Homo sapiens: one gene and its partner. The protein of the gene in region 1 purifies or fractionates together with the protein of each later gene. This does not show direct contact. Each region holds a gene or a part of one and is shown in the gene's direction. Other genes may lie near its edges.

Region 1 (5,699 bases):
CTCTCTTGGAAGTATCTTTGGGAATTGTAAAATCCAGGTGTTACCCTTCTATTTGAACAGAATCCTCAGAGCCAGAAAGAAAACGCCAGAAATCAGTTTCTGATCCAGTGGAGGACAAGAAAGAGCAGGAGTCTGATGAGGAAGAGGAAGAAGAGGAAGAGGACGAGCCTTCAGGAGCCACCACAAGATCCACCACCAGATCAGAGGCTCAGAGGTAATGGGGGCAGCACAGAGCTGCCAGAGACCTTCACCAGCTTCTCCATCTGAAAATTGCTCTGGGTTTTCTGGGATTCTCTTTGAACTGAATCATTCATGCTGCAGTGGAAGTTCTTCCCTTTCATTTTTATTGTTAGCAGTGGGCACATAGTTCTTGGAGAACACATTTTCTGTCCTAAACCATTTTGGGGGATTGCCTCAAAGTCTTTACCAGGTTTTAAATGCCTATTTGGTGGAACCCATTCAATTCCTTACAAATATATTTTTTGAGCATCTGCCATCCTTCAGATGTCGTATTGAGCACCATTCATGAATATGGACATACATAAAACATCATCCCTGCTCTCAGCATACTTAATTCAACCCAGAAAGCAGGAGGAACCAGGCCCACGCACCGTCATCACATGCATCTCACCAGTGCTATGCAATAGGTTGATCATAGGAAAGTGCCCAAATTTGACCATTTTTGAGGTAATTTCATATATTTCCCAAAATGTGTTCTCTCAAACCCTATTGTAGCCAGAAACCTCTGAGAAAAAGAGTACCACGGTCAGATGAGTTTGGGAATGTCATTGAATTCTCTCTCCTTCCTCAGTTACATGTTCATTAAAATATTAAGGGTTTGGCAAACTCCAGGGCTGGGCGCGGTGACTCACGCCTGTAATCCCAGCACTTTGGGAGGCCAAGGCAGGCGAATCACGAGGTCCGGAGATCGAGACCATCCTGGTCAACATGGTGAAACCCCGTCTCTACTAAAATACAAAAATCAGCCAGGCATGGTGGTGAGTGCCTGTAATCCCAGCTACTCGGGAGGCTGAGGCAGGGGAATTGCTTAACCGTGGGAGGCGGAGGTTGCAGTGAGCTGAGATGGCTCCACTGCACTCCAGCCTGGTGTTAGAGCAAGACTCCATCTCAAAAAAAAAAAAAAAAAAAAAAAAAAGGGTTTGGCAAACTCCTAAAGGAAAGAAGCCTGTTGAACTTTGTTTAAACAAGCATTATTTGCTGATACCACTTTTCTGTTGTTGGCCTATATCATTATACCTGTTCACATCATCCAGTGTTCCTTTCCCCATGGCACATTTGAGAAATGGTACATAACTGTATTGTCTCATCCTAACCGTTAATCACTTTCCCAAACATGAATATTTTCCAGGCTGAGCACGGTAGCTCATGCTTGTAATCCCAACACTTTGGGAGACCAAGATGGGAGGATCACTTGAGCCCAGGAGTTTATGAGACCAGCCTGGGCAACACAGGGAGACCCCATCTCTACAAAAAAATTAGAAAATTAGCTGGGCATGGTGGCATGCACCTGTAGTCCCGGCTACTTGGGAGGCTGAGATGGGAGGATCGCTTGAGCCCAGGAGCTTGAGGCTGCAGTGAGCTGTGATCGCACCACTGCACTCTAGCCTGGGTGACAGTGAGACTCTGTCTCTGAAAAAATATATATTTTTTTAATTTTTAATTAATGTGATTTACAAGCTATTAATCTTGGTATCATCTTGTTTAATTTCATTATTCAAGATTGATCAAAAAGTTCAGGAAGATTTATTTCAAAAATAACACTAACAGCATAATATAATAGTATCTTGTGTTTACATAAAGAACTAAAATCGGGGCTGGGCACAGTGGCTCACACCTGTAATCCCAGCACTTTGGGAGGCTGAGGCCGGCGGATCACGAGGTCAGGAGTTCGAGACCAGCCTGGCCAATATGGTGAAACCCCATCTCTACTAAAAATATAAAAAATTAGCTGGGTGTGGTGGCACGTGCCAGTAATCCCAGCTACTTGGGAAGCTGAGGCAGGAGAATCGCTTGAACTCGGGAGGTGGAGGTTGCAGTGAGCCGAGATCACGCCATTGCACTCCAGCCTGGGTGACAGAGTGAGACTCCCCGTCTCAAAAAAAAAAAACAAAAAAAAACAAAAACTTAAAATCAATCTGTTTCTAATTCCTCCAGACTTAACACAGTATTAGCCATTTGTGCCATGGTTTGATTTCTCAAAGAATCAGATTTTAGAGCCAAAGGACTCTAGAAGCTCACACGGCTAAAGTTATAAGGTGGTCTCATATTTGTTTTTTTAGGTGGAGCAGCTCACATAAATAGAAAAGAAGTCACAGAATCCAAATTGCTGCTGCTAGGAGAGGGTGAGGGTGCTGGAGCCCAACACCCATGCATTTGGGTATAGCATCCATCCCACCAGAATTACTGCTTCCCTTTAAAACAGTTGTGGAAAGTAGGGCTCAACTCAGAGAAAGTTCCATAGGCCTTCTAGCCATCTTCGAGTGAGTGTCTAGAAATTGCTCTCAGATTTGCCTTTTATAAATTCTTTAAAAATAAATCTTATTTGATTTATATGGTTCTGTAATCACCTGGATTATCAAAGCTCTTCCTTCATGCACTTTATAATATAAACTTTTGATTTACAAATGAGTTGTTTTCTCTCTAGTTTAGATTCCTTGGCATTGGTTGATCAGTCCCAGGGCTCTGGTGTCTTCATAATTTTACAAATTGTCTGAGTTGGGTGGGCTCTCAGTGGTCATGTAGTACCAATAGCCAGTCAGTGCCTGAGTCACTGCACCTGCAGCTCCTCTGAAAGGGTCTTCCTGCTTTTGCATGGACCTCAGTGGCAGGGAAAGCCACATCCTCCTTAGCATTCTCTGACTTGTGTTCAGTAGAAGCCGGCCTCCCTGTGGCTTCTACTCTTGATTCTAGTTCGACTTTCAGAACCTTCTGTCTAATTTTGCCTTACATATTTGAGGGCAGCTTCCAGGTCTTCTCTGCTTGCTTATTGAGCCCCTTCATCATCCCTGTTTGTGCTCATCAGTTACCTTTATCCTCTTTTAGAAGCAAATGTGCAGCTGGGCGCAGTGGCTCATGCCTGTAATCCCAGCTACTCAGGAGGCTGAGGCAGGAAGATTGCTTGAGGCTGGGAGTTCGAGACCAGCCTAAGCAACATAGCAAGACCCTCTTAAAAGAAAAAATTAAATTAAATTAATAAAATATAAAAGAGGCCACGCACAGTGGCTCACGCCTGTAATCCCAGCACTTTGGGAGTCCAAGGCTGGTGGCTCACTTAAGGCCGGGTGTTCAAGACCAGCCTTGCCAATATGGTGAAACCTCATCTCTACTAAAAGTACAAAAAGTAGCCGAGCATTGTGGCAGACTCCTGTAATCCTAGCTACTTGGGCAGCTGAGGCAGGAGAATTGCTTGAACCCGGGAAGTGGAGGTTGCAGTGAGAAGAGATTGTACCACTGCACTCCAGCCTGGGTGACAGAGCGAGGCTCTTTCTCAAAAGAAAGAAAGAAAGAAAGATAGATAGATAGAGGCTCTTTCTCAAAAGAAAGAAAGAAAGAAAGAAAGATAGATAGATAGATAGATAGATAGATAGACAGACAGACAGACAGACAGACAGATAGATAGAAGCAAACTCTGTATACCAAGTGTGGTCTAATGAATCCAGAAGAGGACTGTTCTACCTTATTTTCTGGATATTGTTCTTCAGTGTGCATCCTCATTACTGAGCCTCAAATTGAAAAATACACCAGCTAAACAAGTTCCTTTTTCAGAGTTTTTACTGGAATCAGAATTCCTTATCTGATTCTTGTGCAGTTGACTACTTGGGCCTTAACACTTAGCCTTGTGAATTGTACTTTCGTTAATCTTGGCCCTTTATTCTACCCTGATGAGCTCTTTTGTAATCTTTATTTTGTCGGCCAGTATATTTTCTATTTTTCGCAGATACATCTTTTTTCTAAATCACAATAAAATATCATGCACAGTAAGAACAAAGATAGTGTCACACAAGCAGAGGTAGTTGTAGATGACATTAAGATCGACTTATCAGCAGTGGTCAGGAAAACCAACCATTTTTCTGATTTTAGTTCCTATTGTTCTGACTTGCCCACAAGGAGCCTCATACTTCCTACAGAGTTCCAGGGACTGGAGTATTCAGTGCTACCATTGCCCAGTGTTTCTATAATCTGTTTCAGAAAGCAACATAGCAAGCCATCTGCACGTGCAACATCCAAACTTGGCAGCCCAGACACAGTTTCTCCTAGAAATCGCCAAAAATTAGCAAAAGAGAAGTTACCTACCAGCGAAAAAGTTAGTAACTCTCCCCCATTAGGAAGGTAAGTCCCTGCTTACACTTCAAGCCATTTTTAACCCCCTAAGACTATTTTTGGTACAATAATGCTTTCTTCCTAATTTCCTTTAAGATTTTGTCTCACCAAATAACTGTTTTTGGGGATCATTGGTTTCCAAGAAGAACAGGAAGGGCTGCAGAAGGTGTCTGTGTGGCCTCACCAGTCTGGCCTTGCCGCAGTGGACTGCCACACAGGCTTGTCCTTGACACCTGTGAGCCTTATCTGCCTTCTCCCATCCACCAAGACCAAAGGCAAGGCAGTGTGGTAAAGCATTTAACAGCCCAGAATCATTTCTGTTTTAGCTAGAGCATTGGAGAGGTGATGAGGTGATAAAGCTTCCTCTTTCAGGCACGGCCCCTGCCAGCTTACACCTTTCACTGCAGCCTTACTGGTCTTACTGCTTCCCAGAGGTGGTCCTGAGCCTTCCTTTCTTGCCTTTGCTTGAGCCAGTGAGGAGTGTCCTCACCACCAGCACCCCTAGTAAGTCAGATCCTTTCCGTCCCGCTTCAGCCCATTTTCATCTCTTCTTGCTGCACTTCTGGTCAGTACTGGGCACTTGAGATGCCACATAGCATTGGTTTGGTATATTCCTTTTATTTACCCCTCTGAGCTCTAGGTTTCTTTCTTGAGATAGGAATTTGTCATACTTTCTATACATTATCATATTCAAAAATAAAAGACTCTTCACTGTACACAAAAACTGTTTTGACCTCTTACCACATTTTCATCTTCACAGCATACTTGTATGTATGTGCTGTTTTCCGCACATTCTAGAAACGAAAGCAAACTATAGTGCCAGGCAGTTTCACATACATGCTCTCATTTAACCCTCAGTGAGTGAATTGTAATAGTTACTCTTATTTTATATGTGAGGGAAAGAATCTCAGGAAGGTTTCCATGCATACTACTCAAAATTGAACATGCAGTCAAATCACTTGAGGCTGTTGGTAAAATGCAGATCCTGGGTCTGTAAGTCTAGGCTGGGGCCTGAGAGTTGGCATTTCCAACAAGCTCCTCAGTGACCAATGCCCCTCCTCACAGACCACATTCTGGGTGGACTAGAAGGGCCTGGATAAACTACGAAGCTCACATGGCTGGGGAGAAGCAGCCTGACTCAGAGCTTCTGTTGGCTGCCACTTGGCCCCCAGCACAATACTGCGCACGGCACCTTTACTGAAGAGGTGTTCATTGAGTGGCTGGTGGCTTTCCATGGAAACAGTTTGAAATGGATTATCAACAAACACATTTTCAGTCATTGTCAACACATGTCAAAACCACATCATCTGCAACAATTTTTGACTCAGTTTATTTACTTTTGCTGTCAAACAAGAAAC
Region 2 (3,500 bases), on another chromosome or scaffold:
TGTAGAATTTTATATAAATGAAATCATATTGTATATACTCTTGTTTTGGTATACCTTTTTTCCACTCAACATCGTTATTTCATTCTGTATCTACTGAGCTGATCGTGTCTTTTCATTTTCAGTCTGTTAATAGGGTGGATTACATTGATTTTTGTAAATGTTAAACTAATCTTGCATTCCTGGGATAAACTCCATTTGGTCGTAGCGTATTCTTTTTATATATTGTTGAACTGAATTCACTAAATTTTTGTTTAAAATCTTTGCATCTGTGTTCATGAAGGATTTCAGTCTGTAGTTTTCTTGTTATATCTTTGTTTAATATGAGATGGGAAGTGTACTGTCCTTTTCTCTTTTCTGGAAGTGTTTGTGTAGTGTTGGTGTTAAACTTCATTACATGTTTGGCAGAATTTACCAGTAATACTTTTTTAGCTGTTTTTATTTTATATTTTACTTTTCTCCTTACCTAGTTTGATAGTGGCAAGGATATGATATGTGAAAGATGCAAGACCTTCCATTGTAGCTTTTCTACCCTTAGTAGGATTTATATTGTATTTAAAGAATAATTCACATAAAGGCTGGGCACGGTACCTCATGGCTGTAATCCCAGCACTTTGGGAGGCCAAGGCGGGTGGATCACTTGAGGTCAGGAGTTTGAGATCAGCCTGGCCAACATGATGAAACCCCATCTCTACTAAAAATACAAAAATTAGCCAGGTGTGGTGGCAGGTGCCTGTAATCCCAATTGCTCAGGAGGCTGAGGCACAAGAATCGCTAGAACCCGGGAGGCGGAGGTTGCAGTGAGCCAAGATCATGTCACAGCACTCCAGACTGGGCAACAGAGCAAGACTCTATCTCAAAAAAAAAAAATGGTAATAATAATTCAAATAAAATGTCAATAGTGATTATCTCTGTGGAGTCAAGCTTTAAAAAAAAAATCCAAAACACCAAACCTAATTTAATTTTAAAAATAAAGGTGGGCCGGGTGTGGTGGCTGACGCCTGTAATCCCAGCATTTTGGGAGGCTGAGGTGGGTGGATCACCTAAGGTCAGGAGTTCAAGACAAGCCTGGCCAACATGGCAAAACCCCGTCTCTACTAAAAATACAAAAATTAGCTGGGCGTGATGTTGGGCGCTTGCAATCCCAGCTACTCTGGAAGCTGAGGCAGGAGAATAGCTTGAACCTGGGAGGTAGAGGTTGCAGTGAGTTGAGATTGTGCCACTGCACTCCAGCCTGGGCGACAAGAGGGAAACTCTCAAAAAAATAAATAGGCTGGGCATGGTGGCTAACACCTGTAATCCCAGCACTTTGGGAGGCTGAGGTAGGTGGATTGCCTGAGGTCAGCAGTTCGAGACCAGCCTGGCCAACATGGTGAAACCCCGTCTCTATTAAAAATACAAAAATTAGCCGGGCATGGTGGCGCATGTCTGTAATCCCAGTTACCCAGGAGGCTGAGGCAGGAGAATCGCTTGAACCCAGGAGGTGGAGGTTGCAGTGAGCCAAGATCGTGCCACTGCACTCCAGCCTGGGCAACAGAGTGAGAGACTGTCTCAAAAAATAAAATAAAATAAAAAATATTTTGGCCAGGCGCAGTGGCTCATGCCTGTAATCCCAAGACTTTGGGAGGCTGAGACTTGAGTCCAGGAGTTTGAGACCAGCCTGGACAACATAGTGAGACTTTGTCTCTATTTGAAGAAAAATAAAATAAAAGTGATTTGATCATTCCACTGGAACATAGCACTTTGGTCTTCCGGCTTTACAAAATATATCCATTGTATATATATTTTTTTAAGTGACTTGATCAGTCCTCAGTATCCAGGACTATAGGTCATACTGATAATGTTTTGAGATTGGATAGTTCTCTCCTCTATGTTACTTATGAGGTCCTTTCCAGGACCTCATTAAACTACATAAGTAATAGAGGCTTGACATAATAGAGGACCTTATTAAACCTCATAAGTAATAGAGACTTGAAGGGTGATATGGTTTGGCTCTGTGTCCCCACCCAAATCTCATGTTGAATTGTGATCTTCAGTCTTGGAGGAGAAGCCTGGTGGGAGGTGACTGGATCATGGGGGTGGATTTCGTCTTGCTGTTCTCATGAGATCTGGTTGTTTGAAAGTGTATAGCACTTCCTTCTTTGCTCTCTCCCCTTCCTACTCCAGCCATGTAGAATGTTTGGGCTTCCCCTTCACCTTTTGCCGTGATTGTAAGTTTCCCGAGGCCTCCCCAGCCATACCTCCTGTACAGCCTGTGGAACTGTGACCCAATTAAACCTCTTTTCTTTATAAAGTATCTAGTCTCAGGTAGTTCTTTATAGCAATATGAGAATGAACTAATAGAAAGGGCTCTGCCTTCCTAATAACTTACTGATTGTAATTTCCTGATCTTAGACCTACAGGCCACCTTTTCCTTACTCTTTAGTTCAACTTATTTCTCCTTTGATGATAGACAGTGCTTGGGAAACTCCTTTGACCATGACACCAGTAAGCCCCACTGCAGCACACTGCAACTAACCTAGGTAGTCTAGAGACTCACCTAGTACCAGAAACTGGTTAGTCACACTCTATTTTTGGGACAGGGTTGTGTTTGGCCTGCTATATTCAGGGTAGACTGTGCCACAGAAAGCAACAATTCTTGGTATGTGACAAATCTGAAACCATGAAACCATGATTGTAAGTTTCCCGAGGCCTCCCCAGCCATACCTCCTGTACAGCCTGTGGAACTGTGAGCCAATTAAACTTCTTTTCTTTATAAAGTATCTAGTCTCAGGTAGTTCTTTATAGCAATATGAGAATGGACTAATACAAAGGGCTCTGCCTTCCTAATAACTTACTGATTGGTCATGTTACATGTTAGTCAGGCTGGTCTTGAACTCCTGACCCCGTGACCTGCCCGCTTCAGCCTCCCAAAGTGCTGGGATTACAGGCGTGAGCCATTGCACCCAGCCCAAAAGATTTTTAAAACAAAATGTGTGATATAGTAATATATATGCTTCTTTATTAACACATTATATAATGTGTCTAATATCTATGATGATTGTAAAGTAATGATGAGCATAAATGATATTTTGAGATATCTGCAAACTAGCATAATAGAAAGGTTTTTTTTTTTCATTTCTATTGTTCACAAAGTCCCAGGTCCTATAATACTGCTACAATTTATTTCCTGTGTTCATAATGAAAAGAAATGCTGTATTTTAATAGGAGATTGGTGAAAAGAAATTTGTATTTTTTTCCCTGTCCAAATTCATGGACTCTGAATTCTCTTTATGGATGCCTTGGGGATCCTTAGACTTGAGGTTAAGAATTTCTGCATTAAAAACTTCCTTCCCTAGTGGCAAAAGATGGTAGAAGGCCAGCCTCAGAAGTATCCTTGTGCCTGAAGGACTGACTATTCCAAGGGAAGTGAGGTAGACTAACCCCACTACATACATACATACATACATACATATATGTATATATATATATATTTTTTTTTTTTTTTTTTTTTTGAGACAGAG

The links. Proteins that work in one complex are often made in the same cells at the same time.
Region 2: the proteins of BOD1L1 (region 1) and KIFBP fractionate together in Homo sapiens (co-fractionation; one large-scale study listed by BioGRID). This does not show direct contact.

Annotation. Positions count from the first base shown.
Region 1 is NC_000004.12:13,571,353-13,577,051, reverse strand, and holds part of BOD1L1 (biorientation of chromosomes in cell division protein 1-like 1), read left to right. Parts: intron 1-60; coding exon 61-214; intron 215-4,209; coding exon of another isoform or gene 4,210-4,350; intron 4,351-5,699. UniProt on the Homo sapiens protein: Component of the fork protection machinery required to protect stalled/damaged replication forks from uncontrolled DNA2-dependent resection.
Region 2 is NC_000010.11:68,995,303-68,998,802, forward strand, and holds part of KIFBP (KIF-binding protein), read left to right. Parts: intron 1-3,500. UniProt on the Homo sapiens protein: Activator of KIF1B plus-end-directed microtubule motor activity. Required for organization of axonal microtubules, and axonal outgrowth and maintenance during peripheral and central nervous system development.